Homo sapiens: one gene and its partner. The protein of the gene in region 2 interacts with the protein of the main gene of each other region in a pairwise test. Each region holds a gene or a part of one and is shown on either strand. Other genes may lie near its edges.

Region 1 (7,291 bases), on a different chromosome or scaffold from region 2:
GTAAAACAACATCACAGGCAGTAGATAACAGGAAGCCATACAATAGACAGTATGTGGCATGAGCCAATACTAATAGGTATGTTACAGGAAAACTTGACCAAGTTCACATAAGCAATTTGGCTAATCCAGAGTAGAAAAGAGGAATTTAACAATATTTTAAATAACCATTAGCCTCTGAGTGTAGAGTTTAGATTGACTAACACCTGAGAGCTAAACTGTAAAGAGCAACTTAAGACACAGCAAGGCTCAGGCCGGCCCACTTCTCCTCATACAGCTCCATAGGAGGCACCCATATCCCTTCTTGGTCATTCCACCCAACTTAGGGGATTCTGGAACTTCCATACTACCTGATTCAAGATAAAAGCAAAGGAAGTAATAGATTGTAAGGAGAGTATAAGAAACTGAATTTGGAAAAGTAGCACCTGAGACCTTTACTATGAGGTGGGCAAGCAGCTTTCTTTATATCTTTAAAACTAGTATATATTCTGTAGGTGTTCATATAAAAATTTAATCCAACTGATGCTTTATACTTGCCCTGTCATTGAGAAGTGGTTTTCTAGGTATCCTTTCACTTGGCTCTAGGTGATAATACTCACCATTTTTTACTCAAAGTCATTATATTTTTGCTACAAGATCTCCAAGGATTCCTATCACACACAGAGGTTAACACACACTGTAACAACAACGTGGTACAGCTATAATGTAGGATCTGCTGGGAAAAATAACTGACAAGCAGAGAAGATATAGAGTGCATGCAGTTCCCCAAATTCCATCCCAGCGTAGGCTGGGCTTAAATGTTCTGTGTGCACCATGGCAAAAGTTTCAGCGGCGTAGAAGGCCTGTTTGAGCCAGCAGGCTGGAGGTGCACAGACAATACAGCAAAAGGGAGAATGAGCTGTACTCTCCTCCCCCTCTCCACACACATACCATGTCACAAACTTACTAAGTTATCTAGAGGGGGCTAGGTAACTCCCAGTTTTTCTATTATCTAGGAGGGGACTAGGTAAATCCTAGTTTCTCTAAGTAACAATAAATATATCAAGGATCTCCAGGCCTAGGAACAATGCTGGCAGGCTGTGCCTGTGAAGGGCCAAGGTCTGCATGCTGCCACCTGGGAACAGCCTTCAAACAATGTCTCTCTAGGTGAGCCAGCTTTGGGCTAAACTGCCAAAGGAGAAAGGAAATGAGGAAATGAACCTTTACAACTATTCAACATTGTCTTTTATCAATCACTTTGTGCTTTTTTCAATTCCCATCAACAAAAATGAAGAAAATACAGACGAATAGAGTATTCTAATCTATTAGTTAGGCAAACTGATCATTTCAATCACTGTGTGTATTACTGTATCATAAGTTACCTTGAAATATGTCATGAGAACTGAGGGGGTGGGGAACAACACTCCATCAATATAATACAGAGTCCTCTAGAAAATCATCACATCCTACCAAACAAGACAGTAATATAATCGTTTAAAAAGGAATCAGTAAAAATTTCCTACCCACTGATATATGAGAAGGAAACAGATTTCACTAGTTCATCAAGGGAACTAGCAATTCTTAGGATTAAAGGGCAAAGGTAGGAATAAAAATCTGAGACTGTCCTCCCTTAATCAGTGGGGAAGGCAAAGGGAGGTGGAAGGGAAATGAACCTGGGCTGTAAACTCATCCATTTCAGCTTTGTGACTTTTTAGCAAGGTTTCTCAAGTTTTAAAATAGAGGTAATTTTACTTCCTTGCAGGGTTTCAGTGAACTTAAAAAGATAACATAAATATCACTGTAGCTGATTACTATCGTGTTACTGAAGAAAAGAGGGAAAAGATGTTCGATGGCTTGCTACTGAAGGTAAAACTAATTTAGTATTTAGATAAGACATGCTAATAATCTAAAAGGTACTCAGTTTCATATTCTGGTTATTGGTTTGTTTAACAAATACTTTCTAATCTCTACTCCCACTACTATTTTGGAGAATCATTTCAAGGCACTTAGATTTATAATCAAGTATTTTTTAAAAACTTGTCACAAAGTCTTTCAAAAGCATTTATAAAGCATTCTATGTAAAATTTAGAAATAGATTTAATTTTTGCCAACAGGCTTATGCCATATAACTAAAGTTAGAGGTGTAAATGTTATATTTTATCTGACTCCTTTCAAATCTAAATGACAGCTGAATATTAATATTAGTCACATTTACAGGTCTAGAAATTCAAATGTAGTGGGAAATACAAAAAAAATGTCTGTTTAGAGGTTTTAATTTAGCAAAGTGTTGAGTATTTTCAGATTAAAATTGTCTAAGTTAGGTACTAAGAAAAAAAGACAACTGTCATGAAAATCACAAATAGCTCCTTTCTTATTTGTTTGTATTCAACTCAATACACATTTACTTGGCACAAATAATTTACAAAGAACTGTACTAGATACAATGGGGAATATCAAGGTGAATAAAACTGTCCCTATTGCCAGGAAATAAATACTTACTTAGTATTTACATTCTTGATTTTAGAATGTTTATGTCTTCTGCCAACCAGTCAGAATTGCCTAGTTGCTGAGTAAAGTGCACAGTTTTCTACATTAAGGTGGACATGCAGGGTTGTTCCATTAGAAAGATGTTAAAAGGGACCAAATCTTATAGTAATTACTTGAATGCACATATTTGTAATTCCCCAGGATGTGCCTACAGTGACAATTCATTGCTGTCAGTGAAATATTTTTCCACTTGGAAAAGATTCCACACCGAGCTTCCACCTGAGGAAGTCAAAGTCTGAAAAGTCTGAGAGCCACTATTCAAAGGAGCTCACAAAACAAAAATGCTTAAGAGCTACTATACTATGGGAAGTCTTCTTCACTCAGCTGAGTATCTGGACGGTAGGAAACGATGTGTTATGCATTACGTAGACTCACTGCCTAGCAAGTTATCTGACAAACACTAGGAAAGAATTCTATATATGTGTATTTAATAACTCATGTGGCAAAGAGTAATAATCAGTATTAAACCAATTTACAGACAGATATGAAGTACTAAAGGAAATCAAGAACGTACTGAAATTAGAGAGCTCTAGATTGTCCATCAATTAAAATAAATAAACTCTTCTGAGAACTGATGGGGAAAGTCAGAAAAAAACAATAAATAAATAGAATAATTTGTAAGATTTGAAATGTTTTACAAACCTTTCCTGCTGCTTGTCGATCACTTTTAAAAATTACAGTCTCCTCATTAACTGGAGGTAGGTTAGTCATAGATTCAATTATTACTGAAAAATAAAATAGATTACTTCAAGATTTACTTATAAGAGAATGTAGAATTTTAATGAAAATCTAAGCTTTAATTCCAACATAATTTAAAAAAAAATTGAAGGTGGGATTATTACCTCATTAACCATTTTCTCTTCAGTAAACAAAGTCTACTTATTACCAAATAGCACTGGGAAATGTTTTTATACCTATTTTTAATACAAAAAGCTATAATTCTAAGGGAAAAAAATTAAAATGCAAATCCCACAGAAAATCTGAATCATCCATTAAAGATTCAACAAATTCAAGCTATGTACATATTCTCAAGTAATTTTTACCAAAAATAGTGTAATCACGTTTAGTTGTAAAACTGTTTTAGAAGAAATTAGTCTTCTTTCTCACTCTTAAAAATTCTTTTCTACAAAGCACTGTTTAGTTACTGGTATATGAAAAAGTTAAATAAAAGGCTTCACAAAAGCATCTTCCTATGAACAGAAGAAGTAAAAGTGCTAGAGCTCACAGTAATTTTTATCATTACATGAAAATTCCCTCCTCAAAAAGCAAAAACATAATCTCCAAATCTCCAGTTCTTTTAAATGACACAAATATTAAAGAACTGATCTACCATAACAAAGAGAAAACACACGCACACACAAACACACTCTCAATAAGTTTTTAGAACATCAGAGCCACAAGTAAGAACACTGTTACATTACATAGATAATACCATGTCAACTAAGGGAATAAAATATATTACCTCAGATTATCAAAATTAATTCAAACAATTTCTTTTGTATCTCAATTAATTTTAACAGTGGATACTTCAGGCTGGGCACGGTGGCTCACGCCTGCAGCACTCTGGGAGGCTGGCGAGGAAGGACGGCTTGAGCCCAGGAGTTTGAGACCAGCCTGGGCAACGTAGCAAGACCTTGTCTCTATTAAAAATCTCTATTAAAAATCTGCAACAGTAGCATGTGCTGATTTTGACCCATTTACTCTTTATTCCCATTAGGTTGAGAATTTTTTCAGTCTATGTTAGTCAAAATAGTATTGTTAAAAATGCAAAAATGACATGCATTATTCCATGTACGTCAGAGTTTACATTTATTTTTTTGAGGATCAACATTATGACCTAAAATTTTTCTGTATACATCAAGTCTAATAAATGTTTAAATCATACCACATAATCAAGAAATTAGTTGCCTGTTTGATTTATCTATATATATTATTAAATACCATAACTCTAAAACTAGTAAATGTAATGATTCCAGAATCACGGAAAGAATTTTAATTATTATTTTTGAAAAGAAGGTTCATTTTAATCTACATTTTTATTAATAAACTGAAAAAGTACAAAATTATGTAAGTGTTAATTTTTAAAAATATCAATATAGACACTGTTAGAAAAAAGTCAAAAGAAAAAGGTCCTATTTCTACCACTGACTCACTATACAACTGGTCCTAAGAGCAACTGACTTGAATTTTTCTGTTTCCTCAGGTCCTGTGGAGGCTGGTGGGCAATCTAGGTCCTCTTCACAGTTCCAAAATCCTATTACTTTGTCAGTGCTGAGTTCTATTCTCCAGCATATCCTACTACGAGTTAATAGTACCTATATTAACAAGAATCTCACAGAACAAACTCACATGTTGGGGCTAAAGAAGTCTAAAATATTAAGTTCTCTTATAACTCAGCAACTTCATATTTCATGCCATTAATAACAGTATTAAATTACAAAACTTTCTCACATGTTTTTAAGACAAAATCAAAGGTGGTGAGCAGAATGGCTCCCCAAGAGATATCCACACTCTAAATACCTGAATCTGTAAATACATTACATTTTTAAGAGCCTTTGCAGATGTGATTAAAGTTAAGGACCACGAGATAGGGGAGATTATCCTGGATTATGCAGGTAAACTCAATCTAAAAAGTCTTTAAAAGCAGAGAACCTTTCCACATGTGGTTAGAGTGAGGTGAGATAATGGAAGAAGGCTCAGAGACAGACGTTACATTACTGGCCTTCAGGATGAAGAAAGAGAGCCAAAAGTCAAGGAATGTGGGCAGGCTCTAGAACCCAAAAAGAGCAAGGAAGTAAGATTCTCCCCTAGTACCTACAGAAAATAACTCAGCCCTGTTAACACCTTTGATTTTAAGCCCACTGAGACCCACATGAGAACTGTATGATAAAATTGTGCTGCTGTAAGTCACTAAGTTTGCAGTAATTTGGTATAGCAACATTAGAAAACTAATAAACCAAATCAAAGGAAATTCCGGAGGAAGTATGTCAGTAAAAGCAGACATTTAAATTTCTATAAATAAACTGTATTTATATATAATTTTAGTATATGAAAACTGAATTTTATCCCTTCAAACTTAATGACTATAAAATAAAGTGTTAATTACGTATGTCAAAGAAAATTTACTAGTCATAAAAGTCATTGATTCAATTATTAGTGTGTGTTTGGAAACAATTTTTATTAATAGAATTCTTAACATACCTAGTTGTTCAATAATACTTGAAACCATCCCAAGAGGCTTTAACTCAATATCTTCAGGCAGAATAATAGTGAGTTCTTCAACAGAAGGCAGTTCCTATAATTTAAAACAAAACAAAACATTAAACTTCCTCCAGCTTCAACAACTTAAAAAAAATAAATTTTCCATTTTAAGTGCTACACATCTCTGAAAATGCTTTAAGTGCTTAGAGCATCTCTTTAATGTTATCATTTTAGTGGTTGCAGACTTGTGATAGCACTTCTCTCCCTCCAACATTTCTCCACCTAAGTGACTCAACAGGTCTCAAGTATACACCCCAAATTCAGTTAGACTAAGAACACAGACATAAGTACTATTCTACATTCTTTCAGTCACACTTGAACAAGAGACTACCTACTTCCTGTAAAAAAGGCTATTATCAGGCAGAGACATTCCATTTGAAAAGAAATAATTCTACTAGTAACTATAATTTCTCCACATAAGTTCTTTTAGCTGTCTTGTTAAATTGGTTAGTTAATTAGTTTGACTGTGATTAAACAGAACACAGAAGCAGCAATCTTTTCTGCGACTGTGTCAAGAAGAGTTGAATGGCCTCTTCAGGAAAAAGGAAATGACACCTATCAGTGAAACATTGAAGTCCTGAAAAAAGAATATAGGCTTTAGCCTATAAAAACTATGAAGGTGTTGCCTGATACCTTCTCTCTCTAGGTTAAAAAATAAGTTTCTTTACACCTAAAGATTTCTCTTTTCTTACCCACCTGCAAACTGCATCTCAGTTGCTATGGAAACTAGATATTGAAGTACAGATGAATCTGAAGAGAAATCTAAGAATAAATCTGACCTTAGCCTTTAGATTAAAAACACAGCTTTCTGTTCTTGACCCTTGCCAAATGATCTAACTCTCAGAAGGAAGCTTTTCCTCAAGATGGCTTGAAGTGCAAAGACCCTACCAATGGCATTTTAGCAGTTAAACTGGGAGAAGGATAACTTTTGGAGAAATGTTGGAAAAGGTGGGAAAACCTACATAACATGAAGTATACTGCAGACGAATGCATCCTGAGTAATCATATTACCCCTACGGAAACTTAAACTAGGTTCTTAAAATCATTCAACCAGAGTTGATAAGCAGACATCTAAAATACACTTTGTTTCTGGGATATGCTATTTTCTGATACAGGATTACTTATGGAGAGCAACACTACGGGTCTCAACCAACTGATGCAGAAGGAAGTCAGCAACATGCCTTTGTATGGTTAGTCTGCCTGGTGTTAGAGGAAATTATTTTGTTTTATCCATCAGAATTCTTATGAGTACTTTCAAAGAGAGAATAACCACTTGCCCTTTCATCATATTAAACGTGGAAAGCCTTATCTTGGGAAGACCATGGTTTGAAAATGGTTCATGTGTGTATCAGAATGCAGAAGGGAGTTTAGTTGTTAGAACAAACTGTGACATTAAATAGCCTTTTTACAGAAGTTCTTAGCTAAAGCAATCTCAAACCTTGTTAAATACAAGACTGGATAACTATAATTTTGGGGGACTGCAGAGAAGAGGGCTTTAATGATATTT
Region 2 (5,181 bases):
GACAAGGGCCTGCCAGACAGTACATGGGGGAGAAGGACTTTCAGGGGAGAGGAACAGCATGGGCAAAGTTATGGAGGCATGCAAACATCTCCCTCTTCTCTCCCTTACTTTCCAAGCAAGTTAGGTACGCTTTCCATGGGGATTCTGGCCTGTGTGGTAGGAAGGGATCTCCCTTGCTCCCATGTTGCTGGCTGTCCGTACATCACCCTGTCCCCTGCAGGAGGGGGCTACAGGCCATCTCCCTCCTGTAGGCCTCTGACTCCCCTCCACTTTTGGGCCCTCAGCTTATCTCGGGCAGGGGACCATTGCAGCATCCTCCCCTCCTCGGACTCAAGGTGCTGAGGTATAAGCCCTGGGCCCCAGATCCCTGGTGACACCTTCCTGGAGAAGACTCTCAAAAGTGACTGTATATTTGAGTTCACCAGCAATAACTCCCCACACTCGAAGCAGGTCCAAACCCAGGATCTCAGGGTCCTTGGGCTCTGTGGCACTGTCTTCCCAAGATCCTTCCTGTTGCACAATGGGAAACCTAAGAGGAAAAAGACAGGGGCCTGCTTGCCCAGCCATGCGAGGGATTCCATGCCCACCTGCCCTCTGTCTGCCTCGCTGGAATGTGGGCCCCTGCTCCCCGTCAGGTTGTGCTGTCTCTGACCTATGTTTACATCCCCGAGGGGTTTCTGCCTCCTCCCCACCCAGGTCAGGGTGTGGTCCAGCAGCTTGCTGTGGGGTGCTGACATGTGTCACCACTGCCCCCCTTGCCCCCGGGGGGGTCATGGTCTCCTCCTGGATGCTGCTCCTTGAATCTTTTTTCTTGATAAACCTTTTACAATTAAGATAACACAAGCATGACTTTTTCTGTTTGGATCCCAGAAAGGCGGAGGGCAGGAGAAGGATAGAGCCCTAATTGCTCCTGAGAGCCATTGGATGAGATTCTGAGGTCGTGGTGGGCACAAATTTTCCACAGAACCTCAAAAGTTCAGGGGAGGGCTATGCTGGTGGAAGGTGCCAGCAGGCAGGAGGAGCTAGAGGCGGCTGTGGACCCCTGGGTGGATCCATCCCTCCCTAGAACGCACTCTTGTCTCTAAAACAGGTGGAGTGCTGCCCAGGGGACTGGCTGTACTGCCTTGTGATCTGGGGCTGAGGGTTGTATGAGGAAGGGACAGGACGCTGTGCCCTAGGACAATTAATAGATGGTGGCTCCTCTCCCCAAGGAGCCATGCCCTGGCCTTGCCCTTGAAAAGCCCTAGTCCAGGGGAGGGAAGTGGGGGACTCAGAAGCTGTGTCTCTTCCCCAAACCGTCCTGGGTACCCAGCCCTGCGGAGGCTCCCACATTGGAAACTGAAGAGGACGCTGGCTGTTGGGGGTGCCCTGATCAGGATGAGCGGACCTTGCTCTTGGATCTGTTCATCCACAGATGAGAGGAGGGTACTGGTTGAGACTTGGCTCTCCTTTGGAGGCAATGGGGACTTGGTGGAGGGAGGGCTTCCAGGGTCAAGGCCGTCAGGGAAGGTTGGCTAGACCAGGGACCAGGGAGCTTGTGCAGGAAGATGGAGAAGGGCCAGCAGGTGCGGTGGGGGAAGGGGCGGGCAGGACTCCCTGTTCAGGGCATAGCGTCCTCAGAGGAACTTCTGGAATGGGTCCCCCTGGCCCTTGGTCAACATTAGGTCAGATTTGGGACTTTCTGAGGAATTTTCCCCTCTCTCCACCCTGCCCCATTTTCTAACCCATCCGAGGAACTTCCCGCCCTTAACCTCTTCTCAGCTCTGCCATCCATGTAGCCATCTGCAGAAGGGGCTCTGAGCAGTGGGGGCTGGGCCAGGCCGAGGCAGGGCTGGTGGGAATGCTCCTCCTAACCCATGGTGCCTGGAAAGTCCCCTGCTCATGCTTCCTGCTCTGGGAACAGTGTTGTCCTCTGTGTGCCTTCCTTGAGAGGGGACCACCTCCCAGGCCTTCCATCCTCAGGGTGAGGCCATCAGTCTGATACTTTTCTCAGGAGGGACTTGGATCCAGGAGAAGCATCAGGAAGTGGAGTCTTGGGATAATGCCAGGCCTGCTCCTGGTATCCTGAGGTCTCTGGGCTGGGGCAGGTGTGTGTGTGGCAGGGAGGGAGGCTGTCCTGGCCCTCCTCTCTCTTTTCTTTCTGCCTCTATGGGGGTGGGGGTATTGGGGGAACTTGGGGCCGTTCTGGGGTAGCTAAGCCCCTTTCAGCAGGAGATTGGGGGACCAGTGTTGGGGGCATCCTGGTGATGGCCGATTCCTGCCTCGTCACATGCCAGGCAGATGTTCCCGACTCGGCTGGACCCAGCTGCCTCGTTTCCTCCCTTACTTTGCTCTGAGGGGGTGGAAAACAAGGCTTCTCTTTCTGCCCTGGACAGCTACCAGCACCCGGGGTAGGGGATCCCCTGGTCACCAGTCTTGGCCCAGTACAGGAAAAGGAATCCGCTTTGTGGCCACAGATGGGGGCTGGGGATGGAAGCAGACCTCAGATCCTGCATCTCTTCACCCGCTGGACACAGGAGGGCTATGAACCACTGTGCCGTGGCTGCACCACTGGCTGGAGCAGAGCCAGGCCTGGGAGAGGCAGGTGGCCCCATCGGCCCCTGCTCTGCACCACCCCTCCCAGATGACAGAGCCATATGTCTTCCACGTGTCTACACACTCACAGACTCACGAATGTAATCGCTCAGTCTCACAACAAGCACACGCAGTCACACACCTGCCCACAGGCACATACGCCACATAAGCATGCCTGTATGCTCACACAGTCATACTGCCACACGCTATTACACATTCACAGCCACAGCCACACATGCCTTGCCATCCATTCAAAGCACCAGTGGCTACTTTGTCAGACACAGCCACACCACAGTCCTATGCACATGGTCATAGCCTCACACAGTGACACATACTCGGGCACACACCGCCACAAAGCCATGCTTGCACAGAGCAAAGGTGTCATAAGCATCTCTGTGCCTGGACTGCACCTGCATGACCTCCCAGGGTCCCCACCTCATCAGAGATTAAGGAGAGCTTTGCTTGGAGACACCACCCCTGGAGGGGGTGTCTCCAAGGGGGAGTAGAGCCAGTCACAAGCACCACATACAGGCACACAGCCTGAGGTCTAGGGATGCAATTGGGATGACTGGATACCACCAAGTTCAGCTCCTTATTGAACAGATGGGCGCCTGAGGCCCAGGGAGCAGTGGTGGCTGGCCTTATCACCCAGCAGGGCAGGGGATACTCTGGGGCCAGAGCCTGGCTCTGGGCAGACTCTGTTTCCTGGCCCTGCCCTCCCCTGGGCCAATCCTCTGGGCCAGGCTGCCTCTGAAGGCCCCTGGCTGAACCGATCCAGCAGAGCTCCAGGCAGCTCCCTTCTCAAGCTAGAGCTGAGCTGCAGTGGCCACGGGAGCCGGAGCCAGGATGCGGTGGGCAGGGCCTAGGCCTGGGCGGGAGGAACATTCCTGCACCATCTCCTCCCCAAGCATGTGAGGACCCAGCCCGCCCTGCCCGCCTGCCCGCTGACTCAGGCCTCCAGGAGCCAAGCCTGCTCAGCTCCCCCACCCACCCTAACCTGCTTCCCCACTAGTTCGGCTCTGGTTCCCCTCTCCACTGGCTGGGGCAGGAGAAGACGGTGAGCCCTGGTAGGAAGACCATGGGGAAAAATCAAACCTCACCACCCCCCGACATAGCTCAGAAGGGCTGATTGTGAAACCCAGCTCTGTTCAACATAGTTGAACACAAACTTTTTTTTTCTTTTGGTTTGGTTTTGTTTTGTTGGTCAAACCCCAGTGCAGTGCAGTCTGTTTAAGAAGTAGTGTCGCATAGCTGTGGCCTGGATCTGCTCAGCAGCCCCAGTAGGCAGCATTTATTCCCTTTCGCAACAAAGAGACTGAGACTTGGCCAGAGGGAAGATGGGACCTGCCTAGGTTCACACAGGGAATCTCTGGCGGGGCTGGACTCAAACCCAGCTCCCTGCCATCACTCCTTAGAGTCACACTGATGAACTCATTTAGGGCCAAAGGAAGAAGGGGAGGCAGATTTCCCCTCTAGATGAGTGAAGGGATAGGAGGCTGGTGAACCCAACGGCTGAAATGTGAAGGGTGAGAGGGTAGGGTGAGTCCCCCCAGCCCTGAGGGATGAAGGGTCTGAAGATGGCACTGCACGGTGACAGCTGCAGTGACTCAGGAGCTCCGTTTACAAAGGAACATGAGTGAGGAACATAACTTAATTTTTTTTTATATCTGACCTGAATTTCTGTTTTCCTCCCCCATTCCCCACATGGTAGAAGTGTAATCTCACATCAATTTGGGGACCCTTTCTTTCCCCAGGGATGTGTAGAACTTTTGGGGATGGCACATTTGAAGACCTTAGGGAGCTTTGCATTTTAAAGGCTGAATCCCACACTCTATCATACATATTAATATTTACCTGCATTCCACATTAAAGGGTTCAGTTTATGACTTGTGTCCTGTCTTGTAGATACTTAATTAAACGGTATTAATTTTGATTTTGCCCCTTTCTGTTGGTGCTCTGCTCTCTTCCCTCCTCCCCGCCCTGCCCACCCAGCAGCACACATTGTTACGGGTTGCTTCTTGCAGAACTCCTGGACCTGGATGCTGCCATTGGGCCTGCGATGCCCGCCATGGTCCTGGTCAGCATTGGGCCCTCCGATCATCTTGCCCTGCCTCCTGCCTTTCCCCTGCATGCTCCCTTGATGCCCATCCTGAGTCTCTGTGTGTCTGGCTCTTCTCTGCTCTTGGGCACTCAGGGCTCCTTCCATTTGCCCTGTACTAAGGGGCTGATAGAGGTCCTTTCTGTGGCCTGTGGCCCCCTCTGGGGCCTGTGGTCATCATTCCACAGCTCCCACTTCGCAGTCAAGCACAGGGAGCTCTGGGGTGCCGCTTAGACACCCCATGCCACCCTGTTTCTTCTGGGATCTGGCTCCTTTCTTGGGGTTCTACCTGGGATGGGGGTATGAGTCCCACTGCTTCGGAATCTCCCAGCCTCTGGGGATTCTACTATCTCCCAGTGCAGGCAGCACTGTGATGGGCACTGGATGGTCGTTATTTTACAACCACCCCATGTGCAAGAGATTATTACTGTCATTTTACACACCAGGAAATGGGGTCCAGCGAGGGGGGTGCTGGAGTAGCCAAGGCTGGTGCGAAACAGTACCCAGGC

Evidence for each region.
Region 1: the proteins of SNX33 (region 2) and NAF1 interact in binary tests that used the Homo sapiens proteins (3 or more experiments, as listed by UniProt).

The regions. Positions count from the first base shown.
Region 1 is NC_000004.12:163,142,617-163,149,907, forward strand, and holds part of NAF1 (H/ACA ribonucleoprotein complex non-core subunit NAF1), read right to left. Parts: intron 5,819-7,291; coding exon 5,725-5,818; intron 3,249-5,724; coding exon 3,166-3,248; intron 1-3,165. UniProt on the Homo sapiens protein: RNA-binding protein required for the maturation of box H/ACA snoRNPs complex and ribosome biogenesis.
Region 2 is NC_000015.10:75,657,795-75,662,975, forward strand, and holds the end of SNX33 (sorting nexin-33), read left to right. Parts: 3' UTR 1-4,507; downstream 4,508-5,181. UniProt on the Homo sapiens protein: Plays a role in the reorganization of the cytoskeleton, endocytosis and cellular vesicle trafficking via its interactions with membranes, WASL, DNM1 and DNM2. Acts both during interphase and at the end of mitotic cell divisions.